Regions from separate parts of the Homo sapiens genome. Here all the other regions are reported to be linked to region 3. The links are microRNA targets in miRTarBase. Many come from high-throughput screens and were not tested one by one. Region 3 holds a microRNA gene; each other region holds the end of a gene's coding sequence.

What was found. The annotated mature microRNA hsa-miR-370-5p reads CAGGUCACGUCUCUGCAGUUAC and lies in region 3 at 1,288-1,309, shown strand. An mRNA with a match to its seed (bases 2 to 7 or 8) in the 3' UTR can be bound and repressed. Matches are read on the target gene's strand: a 7mer-m8 pairs with bases 2 to 8, a 7mer-A1 pairs with bases 2 to 7 and ends in A, and an 8mer does both.
Region 1: miRTarBase lists DNAJC19 as a target of hsa-miR-370-5p. Seed matches in the 3' UTR shown: 7mer-A1 at 955-961.
Region 2: miRTarBase lists FCHSD1 as a target of hsa-miR-370-5p. Seed matches in the 3' UTR shown: 7mer-m8 at 1,134-1,140.

The regions. Positions count from the first base shown.
Region 1 is chr3:180,981,820-180,985,076 of GRCh38, reverse strand. DNAJC19 (DnaJ heat shock protein family (Hsp40) member C19) reads left to right here. Exons shown (of 6, transcript NM_145261.4): 6 at 367-1,368. The coding sequence ends at 437. It overlaps FXR1 (FMR1 autosomal homolog 1), which reads right to left. Exons shown (of 17, transcript NM_005087.4): 17 at 2,324-3,257. Among named protein-coding and RNA genes, the nearest start is that of DNAJC19, 6.3 kb to the left of the region's middle.
Region 2 is chr5:141,638,710-141,641,966 of GRCh38, reverse strand. It overlaps FCHSD1 (FCH and double SH3 domains 1), which reads left to right. Exons shown (of 20, transcript NM_033449.3): 19 at 210-265; 20 at 404-2,665. The coding sequence ends at 469. RELL2 (RELT like 2) reads right to left here. Exons shown (of 7, transcript NM_173828.5): 2 at 3,107-3,172; 3 at 2,946-3,012; 4 at 2,318-2,503; 5 at 1,672-2,047; 6 at 1,522-1,555; 7 at 903-1,296. The coding sequence ends at 1,523. Among named protein-coding and RNA genes, the nearest start is that of RELL2, 3.3 kb to the right of the region's middle.
Region 3 is chr14:100,909,864-100,913,120 of GRCh38, forward strand. It overlaps MIR370 (microRNA 370), which reads left to right and starts at 1,276; the gene lies at 1,276-1,350. It overlaps MEG8 (maternally expressed 8, small nucleolar RNA host gene), which reads left to right. Exons shown (of 51, transcript NR_146000.1): 8 at 370-441.

The sequences.
Region 1 (3,257 bases), not on the chromosome of region 3:
TGGTATAATTGATGTTCATTTATGACCTGTAATCATGAATAGGCTAACACCAGTTCAAAGGCATATACATATATATCTAATATATATGATAGAAATCCTATTTCTATCAGTTTAAGCTTTCTAAAAAGGTGTTATTTTTGTAGAAATATCTCCCACGTAAATTACTTCATTTCTCATTGGTCACATATATTACCATATATTTGGTCATCCAGTTGCAGTGTCAGGGTTATTTTTTAAAAATTAAAACACTGTTTCTGCTAAATCTCCCTCAGATAAGCATTGGAGTCCTTGAAACAAGAGTAGCTTTTTACCAAGCAGAAATTGAGAATCCATATTGTAACTGTTCTTTTTTCTTTCTTCCTATAGGAGGATCTCCTTATATAGCAGCCAAAATCAATGAAGCTAAAGATTTACTAGAAGGTCAAGCTAAAAAATGAAGTAAATGTATGATGAATTTTAAGTTCGTATTAGTTTATGTATATGAGTACTAAGTTTTTATAATAAAATGCCTCAGAGCTACAATTTTAAAAAATGATTTAGCACAAGCTAAATCTCAAAGCCTTGGTATAATTTTCTTGTTTAAATTTGGGGATTTTAAATCAGATTATAGTTTAGAATATTTGCGTATTAATTATGGGCAAGCACACACCTTCTGAATAGAAATATTGTTCATTACTCATTTAGCAGATAATTTGGGACCTATGTCTACTTTTCAAGGCAAAGTGAAGATGACAGTCCTTGCTCTCAGGGAGCCCCCACTTTAATGGGAGACTGATAAACTGGTAATTAGACTGTGATAAATAGTATGATGGAAATTAGCTTAAGCTGTTTAAGTAGGGACTCTTCTTATTCGGTGGAAAGGCTGTTCCAGGTACAGGCAACTGGCCTGGCAACTTGGATACTTGGAACCTTGTATTTAAAAGTGAATTTAACCACAACTGAGACCTAAGAAATTGACCTAGGGGTGTGTGTGTGTGTGTATTCTATGTACATATAAACCATTTTTATTTCATGCATTAAAAATAGTATGATAAAGATTTCAGAGTACAGGTCTGGTACAATCACAGTTCATTGCAGCCTCAACCTCCTGGGTTTAAGCAGTCCTCCCGCCTCAGCCTCCCAAAGTACTGGGATTACAGGCATGAGTATTTACATTGTATTCAGCTAGCCCCTTAAAGGTAATGACCATTTATAAATTATTCCTTCAGTTGGCTATTTCTTGACATAATCAAACTTCTGCAATTGTTATGATTAAGCTTAAACCCTGTTAGCAAAACTGAAAACTGAAATGTTCTCAATATCAACATATTTAATTTGGACTCTTTAGAATTTATACACTAATAAATTTAAATGATGTTTAAAGGCAAATTACTTACTGTTTGTCTAACATAAAATATATAAGGATCTTAAGAGGACCTGTATAAAACATCTGGTATAAACTAGTATGTATTTCTCAACAGGAGTATTTCTTATGTGTAGCTCTAAGATGATAAATTATACTACCTACCGTCTAAACTTCCTTAAGTCATCATAAGTTTCTTAATTATTGGAGGATACAAGGACTTTTGAGGTTAAAAAAATAGTGGAGGTAATATTTATCTGCCTTATAAAGTAAAGGTATATCTGCTCTTTGTGTTTTCTATCCAATACCCTCGTTTAAAATCTGATGGAGTCTGTTATGATTTAGTGTATGATGAAACACTAGCTTCTAAGGCTTTTATGCAGGATAAATTATTTCCAGGGACAAGGAGACATGAAAGTACAGCTGGTTCTTGTTTGTGGTAATTCTGTTCTTTAAGGTGGCTATGAACACTGAATTAGCAAATAAGGAACAAGTTCCTAAGAGAAATACAGATTCTGTGACCCTTTGGTCACAATATTGTCTGCCAGTCAGTATATAACCTTGATCGACCTGTTTCTGCTTGAAAACATTCTTTAGTATTTCATTAACTTTCAATTAACAGCCAACAGCACTATAACTAACTCATGCTTGGGACATCACGGCCTTCTTTGCATTTGGGAACACTAGGTAGCATGCTTCACTACTACTCTTAGGAACCATCTTAAAACAGCAAAATCACCAACAAAAAGCACAAACATGAAACTTGGCACTAAATAGACCACAAAAAGGATATCTGTTTATGGTGTGAGAGCTTAAACAAGGTAGAGCATTGCCTTGTGCACATAAAGTGGTTTAAATTTTTTGTCACTCTGCAAATACTCACAAATGACCAGAAAAGGATGTTGATTTTGGAGTTACAAATTTTAGTGAGTAGGCAAATTCACAGATAAGGAATTCTACTAATAATGAGGATCAACTGTATTTTGGTTTACTAACCTTTTATTTCAGTCCATTGGACAAATCAAAAAATGTTTCTCTGAACAAGAGCTTTATGAAGAAATAGTTGAGACTTAAAAGAAAATTTTTCAAAGACAGATAGTGATAATATGCCGACAGGCAATGAAGCATTAACTCTAAAAAGGGAAATTTAACTTAATAGGTATAAATACTTTTGAGGGTTCAGTGCAAACAACATACCCGTTTTAAGACAGGTGTTAAGACAATGGAAACCACTTAAAAATACCAAGGAGCACAGCAGAGCACATTTTTTTCTTGCATAGTAATCAGTTTTATTTTCTCCAGGCTTACCTTTTTTAAGTAGAAGAATCCGTGTTTCATTGAAGGCTATTAGGCAAACTGAACATTTAAATGTTATCCATGTGAGGGCTCTAGATCATGTAGGTGATTGATACAAATACGATCCATAAAAAAACTTTTATCTTTTGCTGGTATTTTCTTACAAAATACTTGGATCTGTAACATTTGAGTACTTACAGTGTACTAGCACTGTGCTAAGTATTCTTCCCTTATCTCAGTAGACTAGTTATTATGATGTACATTTTACATGTGAGGAAATGGAAGTTTAGTAAGGTTAAGCAGCCAAGGCAACATGCTGAGAATGGCTGATCTTTCTCAGATCCTGAGTTCCGTTCTCTTAACTTTTTGTACTATGGCCTTCACAATTCTGATAACCTAAGCATGTTTTCCTTGATAGTACTGAGATGTGAGTCTAGTACTTATCTCTACAGATCTAGCTTGGGGCCTTTGTCTTTACTCATTGGTGCTTCCAGATATATTTTAAAGAAGGCGGCATGATTAAACACACTTTGGGAATGAGAGGTAGGTTACAAGTTAAACTTCTGCAGAAGCCAGGTAAACAGAAGCCAGGTAAATCTGAGCCTCGAGGCTTCAGCTT
Region 2 (3,257 bases), not on the chromosome of region 3:
CTCCCTTAGTTTTGTACCTTGAGCAGAGCTGATTATACAGCAGTTGCCCAATAAATGTTGAGGACAGTGGATAGAGTGATGGATTTTATGGTCTAGGATGGTGACCATTAATTTAACAAATATTTATAGAATGCCACTGTCCTAAGTGCTGGAGATACAGCATTGAACAAAACAAAGTCTGAAGACTGACTTGTGGTTCTTATTTCCAGACAAAGCCCTGGACTTCCCTGGGTTCCTGGACATGATGGCACCTCGACTCAGGCCGGTAAGGGCCCTTGCCTTGGAGGAGATTGTATGTAGAGGGGTTATTCCAACCAGTCCTGTTTTGTCTGCAGGGCTGAGGGAATAGACAGGGATACCCTTAAGGGAGAACTCTGGAGCACTAACTGTGTGTTCCCTACAGATGCGTCCACCACCTCCCCCGCCGGCTAAAGCCCCGGATCCTGGCCACCCAGATCCCCTCACCTGAAGGCCAGGGAAGCCTTGACCCCCAGTGATGCTGCTGTCCCTATCTTCAAGCTGTCAGACCACACCATCAATGATCCAGAGCAACACAGCCAAAAGCTGGAATCGCCCTTATTTCCACCCTCACCTCCAAGGGTGGAAACTTGCCCCTTCCCATTTCTAGAGCTGGAACCCACTCCTTTTTTTCCCATTGTTCTATCATCTCTAGGACCGGAACTACCTTCTCTTCTGTCATGACCCTATCTAGGGTGGTGAAATGCCTGAAATCTCTGGGGCTGGAAACCATCCATCAAGGTCTCTAGTAGTTCTGGCCCACCTCTTTCCCCACCCTGGCTCCATGACCCACCCCACTCTGGATGCCAGGGTCACTGGGGTTGGGCTGGGGAGAGGAACAGGCCTTGGGAATCAGGAGCTGGAGCCAGGATGCGAAGCAGCTGTAATGGTCTGAGCGGATTTATTGACAATGAATAAAGGGCACGAAGGCCAGGCCAGGGCCTGGGCCTCTTGTGCTAAGAGGGCAGGGGGCCTACGGTGCTATTGCTTTAGGGGCCCACCACGGGCAGGGGCCTGCTCCCAGCTGCCACGCTCTATCATATGGAGCGAGGTGTTGGGGAAGGCGGGGCAGGCAGCCTGTTGCAGGCAGGGGAAGGAGAAGAGACTGAGGGGCTGTGACCTCTCCTGAGGCCCCCAGCCTGAGACTGTGCAACTCCAGGTGGAAGTAGAGCTGGTCCCTCAGCTGGGGGGCAGTGCTGTCCAGTGGAGGGGAGGGCTTTCACGCCCACCCACCCCCTGGCCCTGCCAGCTGGTAGTCCATCAGCACAATGAAGGAGACTTGGAGAAGAGGAAGAATAACACTGTTGCTTCCTGTTCAAGCTGTGTCCAGCTTTTCCCCTGGGGCTCCAGGACCTTCCCTACCTCCACCACCAAACCAAGGGATTTATAGCAAAGGCTAAGCCTGCAGTTTACTCGGGGGGTTCAGGGAGCCGAAAGGCTTAAATAGTTTAAGTAGGTGATGGGAAGATGAGATTACCTCATTTAGGGCTCAGGCAGACTCACCTCACATACTCCCTGCTCCCTGTGGTAGAGACACCTGAGAGAAAGGGGAGGGGTCAACAATGAGAGACCAGGAGTAGGTCCTATCAGTGCCCCCCAGAGTAGAGAGCAATAAGAGCCCAGCCCAGTGCAGTCCCGGCTGTGTTTTCCTACCTGGTGATCAGAAGTGTCTGGTTTGCTTGGCTGCCCATTTGCCTCTTGAGTGGGCAGCCCTGGGCTTGGGCCCCTCCCTCCGGCCCTCAGTGTTGGCTCTGCAGAAGCTCTGGGGTTCCCTTCAAGTGCACGAGGGGTTAGGCTGCTGTCCCTGAGTCCTCCATTCTGTACTGGGGGGCTGGCTAGGACCTGGGGCTGTGGCCTCTCAGGGGGCAGCCTCTCCATGGCAGGCATCCCTGCCTTGGGCTGCCCTCCCCCAGACCCCTGACCACCCCCTGGGTCCTGTCCCCCACCAGAGCCCCAGCTCCTGTCTGTGGGGGAGCCATCACGGTGTTCGTGCAGTCCATAGCGCTTCTCAATGTGTGTCACCCGGAACCTGGGAGGGGAGGGAACACTGGGGTTTAGGACCACAACTCAGAGGCTGCTTGGCCCTCCCCTCTGACCAGGGACATCCTGAGTTTGGTGGCTACTTCCCTCTGGCCTAAGGTAGGGGAGGCCTTCTCAGATTGTGGGGCACATTGTGTAGCCTGACTTCTGCCGGAGCTCCCAGTCCAGGAGGAAAGAGCCAAGGCCCACTTTTGGGATCAGGTGCCTGATCACTGGGCCCCCTACCTCAGCCCCCCTTTCCCTGGAGCACCTGCCCCACCTGCCCACAGAGAACACAGTGGTCTCCCCTGTCCGGGGGCGGCTTTTTCCTTCCTTGGAGCGTCCCTGACGGACAAGTGGAGGCCTCTTGCTGCGGCTGCAATGGAGGCAAGGGGCTGCAGAGCCCAGGTGCACTGTGTGATGATGGGAGGGGGCTCCGTCCTGCAGGCTGGAGGTGGCATCCACACTGGACAGCAGGGAGGAGGGGAGTGAGGGTAACATTTCCATTTCCCTTCATGTTTTGTTTCTTACGTTCTTTCAGCATGCTCCTTAAAACCCCAGAAGCCCCAATTTCCCCAAGCCCCATTTTTTCTTGTCTTTATCTAATAAACTCAATATTAAGATGTTAGTGACCATATGTTCTTCCTCCCAGGGCTGTTTGCTAAAAAGAACACTGCTTAACCCAAAGGAGTGGCACTAGAGGTGAATGTTAGGCTTGATGATATCTAGATGAGAGAGATGGTTTGAAGGAATCGCGATTTCTACAAAACAACTTTCTTCCTATAAGTTAGCCAGCTTTGCCCTTCCCCCAACCCCATACATGCAAGGAGGCTGGGAGAGGATTGTGCTGGAGGAGAGGATACTCTCCAAGGCAAGCTAAGTCATGCTGGCCCTTGTTTCCAGCTCACCTGGACAGCTGCACTGTCCCTTCTCCTTCACTGTCCCCCAGCATCTCCTTCAAGGCCTCAGCATTGGCTGAGGGAAGAAGGAAAAGAGGGAGTCAGTGGAGGTGGAGGTCAGGGCAAGAGAAGGTTGGAGAAGAGGGAGCAAGGGGCTATGCTAGACCCACCTTCATTCTGGATGATGCAGCGAACAATCCTCTCTACTGTGTCCTCATTCATGTCATCGTCCTCAGCTGAAGGATGAAAGAGATTGGCAAGGAAGCAGGAATGAGTCAGCTTTGGGGGAATATTACCTGGTGGCTCCCATCATTTATTGCT
Region 3 (3,257 bases):
CTCCCTGGTGTCACTCCCTACCCCCTTCCTGCTTTATTTTCCTCCCTAGTTCTTACCACCATCTTTTATCCCATGCATTAGGCTTACCTTTTCTGATGATTTTCTGTTCCTATCTCCACCCACAGGGATGTTAATTCTCATGGAACCGGGATCTGTCCGTTTTGCTCACTACTGTATCCCTGGCACTTAGACCCAGCAACAATACAAAGTGCATGCTCAGAAATTTTGGGGAAAAATTTATGAGATACTATTGAATTGTATCCACCCCAGAGGAGTGTCAATGTATGCAAAGTAGGCAGTGTGGTGCTTGGTACAGAGTATGCATTCAATAAATATTGGCTAATTATGATTATTATGTCTAATTCACAGGACTGTTGTGAGAATCAAACGAGATAATGTATGCTGAGGCATGCTGTGAACACTACGTGCTGGGTACAGGAGGTACAATATTAATGATCCCTGCTGCTTGGAGGGAACTTGCACTTAAAATGTTATGCTTTTCATTTTCACACCACTTAGGAGGGAGGAAAGGCTGGTGGGACGATCGCCACCTGAGGCTCAGGGAGGGGACAGGCCTTCTCCAAGGCCTCACAGTATGAAGAAGGCAGGGGCAGGTCCCCACACTGGTGGTCTTCCCACGACTCCCTCATGACAGTCCCCCAATGGACAGATTGATGTGTAAATGACGTTATACACCTACACCATAACTCTATATAATATATAGAATTATTTTCAGGTCCCTGAGTTGCTCTGAGGCCAGTTGTGGCAGGTGGTACACACCCAGGACAAGCTGGGGGGAGGGGTAAGAAGGAAACTGGCTGTGTATCTTTGGTAAGGCCCATAGTGAAGCCTCTTTTGGTTTCTTGGAATCAAGTTGAACATCAAGAATCTCACTGCATAGACTTCCCCAAGGGCAGTCCCACTTCACAAAATGAATTTTCATTTTCCAAAGCACATCCCTTAGTTGGATTTCTGTTTTTCAGTGTATTTGTTTAAGCTCTGATGCCATGTCCAAAAAAGAACATGCCCGAACAATTCCCTGCCCGAGTCCCAAACCCTTGGCTTGATCTGAGCATTGAACTAATTCATTTCTTTGATCAAACTGGGGACTGTTTGAGCAGTGGGCTGGGCGTCATGGGACGGGGAAAGGGTGGGGTGTGCGCAGGTGTGCAAGGCGGGCTACTTGAGGGATGGGCGATAGTTCAGGTCACCCTCCGGTTGGACCCACGAGGGCGCTGCATTCCTCATTCTACAAACCGTACAAGTCGGGGCACAAGACAGAGAAGCCAGGTCACGTCTCTGCAGTTACACAGCTCACGAGTGCCTGCTGGGGTGGAACCTGGTCTGTCTGTCTGTCTAACACCAGAGCTCGGGCGCTGCTGCAGAGGGAGCCAAGATTTGGGTGAGGGAGGGGGCTCAGAGGTGGGATGGAGGGTTTTTTTGTATTTTTTTTTAACCTGGTTGCCATTGGCTTGAAAATAATAACATAACTTTGCTTGGGGACCCCCCACTGCAACTATCTTGCTGATGGGGAAACAGGCACAGAGACGTTAGTTTGCTTTGCTGATGTCACCCAGCTCGTCTGGCATTGAGGCTGGATTTGGGAGGTGGGTACTGAGGTGTGAGCATATGTGCTGCAACCACTGGGCCCACTGGCTCGTGGTGTGTGCGCAGGTGCAGATGGCTCAGTGATCTGGGTTTGAGGGCTTTTACCAATCCCCCCAGCAGTGGGTGTACTCTGAACTCAAGCTTGTGTATTTCACACTCTCCCTCGACCCTTCTCTTTAGCCTTCACTGAAAACTCCTGCAAGCCACTGACCCATGGAAAATATTTAAGAATACATATATTACATATATGTTGTAAATTTATATATATATATATCTGGAAAGGGATTGTATCCAGGAGATTTGGGAGTGATTGTTTAAGGTAGAGGGAGGCAGGGGCATGAGAGGGGGAGGGATGGAGGTGGGGACCACCAGTGGTAATTCTCGTGGGTGGTTTTAACAATCAATACAAGAAGAGAGAGACATGCCAGCAGCAAGGACGGGAGTGGGTTGTAAACCAGGGATGGTGATTAATTCTTCACAACTGAGGGGCATTAAAAAAAGAAATCAGAGTGGTTCGTGGCTATTAATTTTGTTATTAAAAATAATCAAGGAATAAAGAAATAAGGTAATAAAGGCCTCGAATGGAACAATTCTGAGAATGTGTTCTGGGCAAAGGATTATGACTAATCCAGGTCTGGTAACCTGATATTAACAAACAAAAAAGGCCTCGTAGGCTATTTTCTTTTTTTAACCGGCTTTATGTTCCATAGAATGGGCACACTGGGGTTTCTCTCCCAGAGAAGGTGAGTGCAGACAAATAAAAGCCGGCTTTGTGGGTGTTGATTGAACAGTTAAAAATGAATGAATGCGTAAATAAAACCAGAGACAGCCAAGCATGTACCAATGATGGCAATGTGTTCCTCACTCCCCAGCTTTATAAATATATAATTGATAAATCAGTATTGTATGTATTTGTATTGTATTTAAATTGTACAGTGTGACATTTTGATATACATATATATTGTGAAATGATTACCATAATCAAGCGAATTAACATACCCATCACCTCATGTAGTTCCGTTTTTCCATGTGTGCAGTGAGAATACTTAAGGTCTACTCTTTTAGCAAATTTCAAGCATGAAATACATTATTGTTAACTATAGTCACCGTACTCTGCATTGGGTTACCAGAACTTACTCCTAACTGCATCTTACTCCTAAGTTTGCATCCTCTCACTAAGATCTCCAGATTCCTCTCACTCCTGACCCCTAGTAACTACCTTTCTAGTCTCTGCTTCTGTGAGGTTATTCCAAAACAAAAGCCAGGTTCTAGGCTGTTGAGGCTGAGGGTAGGAAGTGTATCAACAGGTATACAGAATAGTCACTGGTCTTGGGCTAAATGGTGACTTCAAGTGTAGTGGCTGCATAGTCAAAAATGAATTAGATGAGTACAAAAGTGACGAAATGAAAGAATGTCAAGAATGGACCACAAAGACAGTGTTTTATGACCTAAAGATTAAGATTTATCCATTTGTGTACAATTGTGGACTATATAAAATAAAACAAGACTTTGACCTCAGTGGATAAGAAGTATTTGGATGTACTAATCAATATTTTTGGTCTGGGTCAGTGGTGGGTTCATCTGTGTTTGTTGTATTTAAAAAAATAAATGAAAACATTGAAAAGGGTGAGTAGGAATCAAATATGATT